Homo sapiens: one gene and its partner. The protein of the gene in region 1 purifies or fractionates together with the protein of each later gene. This does not show direct contact. Each region holds a gene or a part of one and is shown in the gene's direction. Other genes may lie near its edges.

Region 1 (3,821 bases):
TTGAGAGTTTTGTGGCTGACATTAACAGTGGCCATTGGGATACTGTGTTGCAGGCTATACAGTCTCTGAAATTGCCAGACAAAACCCTCATTGACCTCTATGAACAGGTAAGAGTGGTGGTGATGCTGATCCCCATGGGTTGGTTCGTTGTGGGCCAGCTCCCCAACTAAAAAGCGTCAGTGAGCATTCCTTCAAGCACGGTAGGGCTGCATCAGCCCATACAACAATGGCAAGGCTTGACATTGTATTTTTTCTCCCTTCTTGGAAAATCCAGGATTTCCCAAATTAAAATTCTTTCCTTTTTTTGAGACTGGATCTTGTTCTGTTACCCACTCTGGAGTGCAGTGGCAAGATCACAGCTTGCTGCATCCTCCATTTCCAGGATCAATCCTTCCTCCTGCCTCAGCCTCCTGAGTAGCTAGGAACACAGGCACGCACCACCACGCCTGCCTAATTTTTGCATTTTTCTGTAGAGACAGGATCTCACCATAATACCCAGGGTGGTCTCAAACTCCTGGGCTCAAGCAGTTCGCCAGCCTTGACTTTCCAAAGGGCTGGGATTACAGGCACGAGAGAGCCTCAACTTTCTAATCACATAGTTAGTCTTTCTGATAACTAGCTCCTACCTATCCTGAGCCATTTCCTTTGCACAAACCCAGGTGTGATTCAAGGGGCCCAGGAGTAACAAAGATACCCCTATCACTGGTCAAATTCCAAGAAGCTCCAAGCCAAGAACCTAGGACAAAGATCAGACAAATTTGTGATTATAAAACAGCAGAGTAGACTTTCTGGAAATAAGATTGTAATTTGAAGTAAAAGTAGTGAAATTGGTTTTTGGTTTTTGTTTACGGGTTTTTTTTTTTGTTTTTTTTTTGAGACAGAGTCTCACTGTGTTACCCAGGCTGGAGTGCAGTGGTGCGATCTCTGCTCACTGCAACCTCCATCTCCGGGGTTCAAGCGATTCTCCTGCCTCAGCCTCCCGAGTAGCTGGGATTACAGGCGTGCATCACCACGCCCAGCTAAGTTTTGTGTTTAGTAGAGACGGGGTTTCACCACATTGGCCAGGCTGGTCTCCAACTCCTGACCTCAAGTGATCCACCTGCCTCAGCCTCCCAAATGCTGGGATTACAGGTGTGAGCTGCCGTGTCTGGGCAGTTTGTTTCTTTACAATCCGTATGAGTTCAATAATTCCCAAAGAAAATTTTGGTAACTGGAGAAAGGTTTCTCTGGAGCCCATGGGTATATTCCCATCTTTAGCTTTCTTTGGCATCTACATTCTGAGCAAGAAGCCTGAGAGGAGGGGAGATTGGTAGATAAAAATGAAGGATAGAGTTTGAAGGATTGAAATTATTATTTATTTATTTATTGAGACAGATCTCGCTCTGTCGCCCAGGCCAGAGTACAGTAGCATGAGCTTGGCTCACTGCACTCTCCGCCTCTCGGGTTCAAGCAATTCTCCTGCCTCAGCCTCCCAAGTAGCTGGAATTACAGGCATATACCACCACACCCAGCTAATTTTTTTTGTATTTTTAGTAGAGAGTCTGTTTCACCACGTTGGCCAGGCTGGTTTCGAACTGCTGACCTCAAGTGATCCGCCCATCTTGGCCTCCCACAGTGTTAGGATTATAGGCATGAGCCACCAAGCCCACCAAGTCCACCTGAAATTGCTAGTGAAAATGGAAAGGGGCACTTCCTGGTATTGGAAATCCTTTGACAGGCCATATCTGTGTTAGATATTTTACCGAAAAATATTAATAAGACGGTGTGTTGAAACATCTGGGGTTTTTTTTGTTTTTTTTTAATTGTCCAGGTTGTTCTGGAATTGATAGAGCTCCGTGAATTGGGTGCTGCCAGGTCACTTTTGAGACAGACTGATCCCATGATCATGTTAAAACAAACACAGCCAGAGCGATATATTCATCTGGAGAACCTTTTGGCCAGGTCTTACTTTGATCCTCGTGAGGTATGACTGTGGTAATGAAAAGGAACTTTTTGTTAACTTTGGAAATGAAATAACATGATCTTTTTTTTTTTTTTTTACCATTTTATTGTATACTCTTTGTGATTTTGATTTAATTTTTGAGAATGATGCTTCTCTGTTTATATATGTTGGCTGAAATTTGCGTATGTTAAAGAGAATAATTTTGTTCAGTTTTCTGATTATTTGAGTCTTCTATACACCTCAGTTTAGAGGATTGCGTGTTGGTTAGTAAAAAAAGCAGAACATTTTATTCTGATGTCATTTCCACATTAGCCCTCCCCGAAGTGCTGCCTGACTGCTGGTATGTTCACTGATCATTTGTGTGTCTTGCCCCTAACAATTGTAGTTTCCTTCTAGCCTTTTTAGTCCCTAGAAGCTTTTGTTTCTTCGCGGATTATGCTTACCAGTAGAGCATGATGATAGTCTTTTATTCTTCCAAAACGTTATTATCTGTATAGTTTCATTCTTCCTAAACCTTATTATCTGTATGGTTTCATTCTTCCTGCCCACCCCCCCAGCCTTTTACTAGAGGTTTGTCAAAATAGGAGGAAAAAGGATTAAAAAAAATTTTTTATGGGTACATAGTAGGTGTATATATTTATGGGGTACATGAGATATTTTGATATAGGCATGCAGTGCATAATGAGGGTAAATGGAGTATCCATCACCTCAAGCATGTATCCTTTGTGTTACAAACAATTCAATTCTTTCAGTTATTTTAAAATGTATAATTATTATTGGCTATAGTCACCCTGTTGTGCTATCAAATACTATTTCTTATTTATTCTTTATATTTTTTGTATCTATTAACCATCCCCACTTTCCTTCTTACCCCCGCCACCTCCACCCTTCCCAGCCTCTGACAACCATCCTTCTACTCTCTATCTCCATGTTTTAATTTTTAGTTCCTGCAAATAAATGAGAACATGCAAAGTCTGTCTTTCTGTGCCTGGCTTATTTCGCTTACCATAATGAGCTCTAGTTACATGCATGTTGTTGCAAATGACAGGATTTCATTCTTTTATATGTCCAGCTAGTACACCATTGTGTACATGTACCTCATTTTCTTTATTTATCTGTTAATGGTCACTTATCGTTGCTTCCAAATCTTGCCTATTGTGAACACTGCTGTAATAAACATGGGAGTGCAGATATCTCTTTGATATACTGATTTCCTTTTGGGTGTGTACCTAGCAGTGGGATTGCTGGATCATATGGTACCTCCATGTTTAATTTTTTGAGGAATCTCCAAACTATTCTCCATAGTGGTTGTACTAATTTACATTCCCACTAATAGTGTACGAGGGTTCCTTTTTCTCCACTTACTCACCAGCATTTGTTATTTCCTGTCTTTTTGTATAAAAGCCATTTTAACTGGAGTGAGATGATATCTCATTGTAGTTTGATTTGCATTTCTCTAATGATCAGTTGTGTTGAGCACCTTTAAATAAACCTGTTTGCCTTGTGTGTGTCTTTTTTTGAGAAATGTCTATTCAGATCTTTCACCCATTTTTAACATTGGATTATCAGATTTTTTTCCCGTAGAGTTGTTTGAGCTCCTTATATATTCTGGGTTTTGTTGTTGTTGTTGTTGTTGTTTTTGAGACAGAGCTCTGTTACCCAGGCTGGAGTGCAGTGGCGTGATCTCGGCTCACTGCAGCCTCCGCTTCCTGGGTCCAAGTAATTCTCGTGCCTCAGCCACCAAGTAGCTGGGATTACTGGTGTGTGCCACCACACTCAGCTAATTTTTGAGTTTTCAGTAGAGATGGGGTTTCGCCATGTTGGCCAGGTTGGTCTCGAAGTCCTGGCCTCAAGCAGTCCACCCGCCTCGGCCTCCCAA
Region 2 (3,821 bases), on another chromosome or scaffold:
TGCCAAAACTGATTAGCTAGTGGACAGAGATATGCCCAGAGATGCATATGTGTATATTTTTATGATCTTACAAACCTGCAAATGGAAAAAATGCAAGCCCATTGGTGGATGTTTTTGTTAGAGTAGACTTTTTTTAAACAAGACAAAACATTTTTATATGATTATAAAAGAATTCTTCAAGGGCTAATTACCTAACCAGCTTGTATTGGCCATCTGGAATATGCATTAAATGACTTTTTATAGGTCAATGCATCTTTGTTATTATCGTCAGATGTATTTCAACTGATGTATTATACTATTGGTTTAAATCTCTTTCTCTCAAGATAGAAGGTGTAGCAAAAGTATCCCAACTACTCCTCGCTTCTAGTGTCCCTCGGCATCTGTTCTGGAGGGGTAATTTGGGATGTGGTGTTAGTTGTGGCTGAGAGCCAGTGCTAGGTCCCTTGCCCCACTAGGCCATTCTCTAGGCTCATTCTAGGTGAAAGAGCTCACAGCAGACTGTGGGGTGGGGGAGCACCAGGAAGCTGTTGGTGACCTGGACAACTGGTGTCCCTGGTTTTCAGTGACTCGCTCCTCTTCCCTTCAGTTCTCTGATGTTTGGTGTTATTATTTTATGTTGTTATTTTGCCTCTGATTTGTTTCCTAGTCACTCAAAGCATTTTACAGAAGCCTTACCACTTTACTAAATAACCCTGTAAGGTACTGATTTAAAAACTGAGTCATATGCATCCCTCCTCCTTTCCTCTCCCATGCCCAAGGAAGATAAAACAGCTTCTCTGCCACAATTGACCCAGAGTGGTAAAGATAGAGAATCAGCATGAAAACTGCAGTTCCCCAGCTTTGTGGTACTCCACGGACCAGCCTCCTTGCTGCATTTTCATAGAATCTCTTCCTTATAAAAGTAATCACTCTCGGATAAACCTTACTACAGTTTAAAAATGCTTCCCTCTTCTCTTTACAGCTACCTGCCACTTCAATGTGCCACATTTTTCCCCCCACTTTCACGTTAAGCTTAATGCTATTCCCTAGATCTGAGTGAACTTCAGTTAGAAGAAGAAAACTAAAAATCCAGAAACTGGTGATAATCAAGTTTTCCCTTTTTATGTTTCTTAATTTTATTCTCTTCAACAGCTTTTCTTTTTCTCTGCTAAGATTTAAACAGTGAGGGCTGATAATAAAACTAATTGTTAAGCCAGTGTCCTACTTACAAGGGTGGAGACGGGACAGAAGCTAACTCACTGCTACTGGGTTTTGTTTGTTGTTTCCTGTCCCTTGCTCTATTTCTGTCCTCTTCCAGAACAAAAGTATGCTCAAGTTCTATCCTAAATGTGTGCTCTTGGCTGGGTATTAGTGGCTCATGCCTGTAATCCCAGCACTTTGGGAGGCTGAGGTGGGTGGATTCCTTGAGCCCAGGAGTTCAAGACCAGCCTGGGCAACATGGTGAAACCCTGCCTCTACAAAAAATACAAAAATTAGCCAGGCCTAGTGGCACATGCCTGTAATCCCAGCTACTTGGGAGGCTGAGGTGGGAGGATCACTTGAGCTGAGATCATGCCACTGCACTCCAGCCTAGGCAACAGAGTGAGACTCTGTCTAAAAAACAAACCAAAAAAAGTGTGTTCTTTAAAGTAGAATATTTGCTTTTTACAATATAGTTCTCAGAATGATCCAGTTCCATTTATTATTCTAGAATGTGGTGCAAACTCAATGACATTGGAAGAGACTCTTTTTGTTGGGCAGTGTAGGAACAAGAAAAGAAAATAAAAATGCCATGAGTATATTATTTAAGGAACTTTTGTTTTATCCAAAAGTAGTCATGATTGCTGTAGCATAGGCTGTGAAAAATGAGAGAGTGCAAATCTCTCTCATTTAAATGTCCACAGTGGCTTTAGTCTCCCAAGTACAAGGGCCAGATGGCAGAGAACAGCTTAAACTGAGCCTTCAGCCTCATTAATAGGAGGAAGTCTTGGTACTTTTGGTGACTAAGAAACTGGATTATTTAAAACCTTAATTATCTCCTTTACTCCTGGTTTACAGAAGGCAATAAATATACAACTCCTTTAGATCCCTCTAACTCCTGCTGAATTTTCTTTCTTTTTTTCTAAGTCTGCATCCTATCTCTTGATTCCATTGCCTGAAGAAGCTGTGTGAAATTAGTCTGGTTATTGGTTTTCTTGTCTGATAGTGGCATCTTGATCTCTTCAGATGTCACACTAAATGCTGCTCATAACCCATCCTCCTCTTCTTTATTCATCACTGCCTTCTTCAAGGGAGGTCTTGAAACTGCCTCATCTACCTCATGATCTGCTAGTCGAGATAGTGACTCTTTGGAAGTTGGTAGTCCAATGTCTGCTTCCCCGCATTAACCACATTGCGTAGGTTTGGGAATTTTGCAGGTGCTAAATCATCATGGCCAGGAAGATGAAACACCTTGAGAAATGGGAACATCTCTTCACTGTGTTCTTGGATCAGCCTTCTTTCAACTACCAAGAAATGGATGATTTCTCTGCCAACTCCAGGAAGTAGTACAGCATGATTGAATCCTTCTTCAGTGAATCTTTTCATTGTAACTTAGGGTGTAAAAGCTCATATCTACTCAAAAAACTCAAATCTACTCTTTCAGTAGATATGAGCTTACATTGACTTATGAATGGTTTTCCTGTAGGCCCAACAGTGTCATGACCCTCCAGTTGAAACAAAGCATGAGTTATTTTTATATCGAGTCCTTGAACTGCTAGCCAGGTAGATGTTTCCTTGAAGTCCAGAGCAGGATCCAAGTCAGATGAAGGAGGTGGCACACCTGGCTTAACTGCAGATCAGGGAGCATTGAACCTCTACAATTTGCTGCATTGGATTTCTGCATGGGTTTCTCACTGAATAGTAAATTAGAGAAAATGCTACTTTTACTATTTTGCATTTTATATCAACATTAGCAGCCTGTTCCCACTCAGGTGCTGTCCAAGGCACATGTTTCCTTGGGATGTTTGGACAGAATGATCTGGCTTGATGTATTTCTTGGGCTCTGGTACCACATCATAGAGTTGGTTAAATGTAGCCAGCAGCAGTGTCAAGACAGCTGACACTGTCTTCCAAGAGTGAATGCATTGGCCTTTGGAACTGCTGCTAAAGCCATGTGTGGGGTGGCGAGCACATCTTTAGGTGGCAGCAAGGCTATATCTGATTGACACAGATCTGAAGTCTCTAACACCATATTGCTGTTGTCCTGAATTTTCTAACTTGGAGAAATTTAAGGATCTCCTGCATTATCTAGGCAGAGCATATGTTGAGGTTGTTTTGCCAGTTGTTATCAGTGTTGAAGAACTGCTCCTGTAAGCAAACTGTTAAAAGCATTACTACCCCATATGCATCTGATGTACACTGTGTTTTGGTGTTTGTGTTTTTAGTGAGAGTTCTAGCCAGTACTGTGCCTGAACTTGGGAGAGAAAGGGGCCTGTGGCTGAGGTTGGTGCGTGCTCTATTTCTGTGTATCGAATGGACTACAAGGTTACTGAAACTGGGCTAAGGGAAAGTGTATAGACAACTCATTACACTGTAGACAGATTTTAGAAAGCTACAGGAAGGCAAATGGATGTTTCTGCCTCAATTTGGCAACCGAGAGAGTGATGCAGAGCAGAGTCATTGAAGTTGGCATACCTGTCTTCTGCAGGCCAATTCAAGTTTGAGGAGAGTGGGCTGCTTAAAAACATGGTGCTCGTCCACATGGATTTGAGGAAGTTTATGGTTGGGTTTCAAGCTTAGGGACAAGTTGTGGTTTTTAGAGGCAGTAACTCTATGCCACCTTATTGGCCACTGTTAAAAGT

The links.
Region 2: the proteins of SMU1 (region 1) and DYRK3 purify together in Homo sapiens (affinity purification with mass spectrometry, with the first as the bait; one study listed by BioGRID). This does not show direct contact.

What each region holds. Positions count from the first base shown.
Region 1 is NC_000009.12:33,069,882-33,073,702, reverse strand, and holds part of SMU1 (WD40 repeat-containing protein SMU1), read left to right. Parts: coding exon 1-107; intron 108-1,810; coding exon 1,811-1,963; intron 1,964-3,821. UniProt on the Homo sapiens protein: Involved in pre-mRNA splicing as a component of the spliceosome. Regulates alternative splicing of the HSPG2 pre-mRNA. Required for normal accumulation of IK.
Region 2 is NC_000001.11:206,648,946-206,652,766, forward strand, and holds part of DYRK3 (dual specificity tyrosine-phosphorylation-regulated kinase 3), read left to right. Parts: coding exon 1-20; 3' UTR 21-3,821. UniProt on the Homo sapiens protein: Dual-specificity protein kinase that promotes disassembly of several types of membraneless organelles during mitosis, such as stress granules, nuclear speckles and pericentriolar material.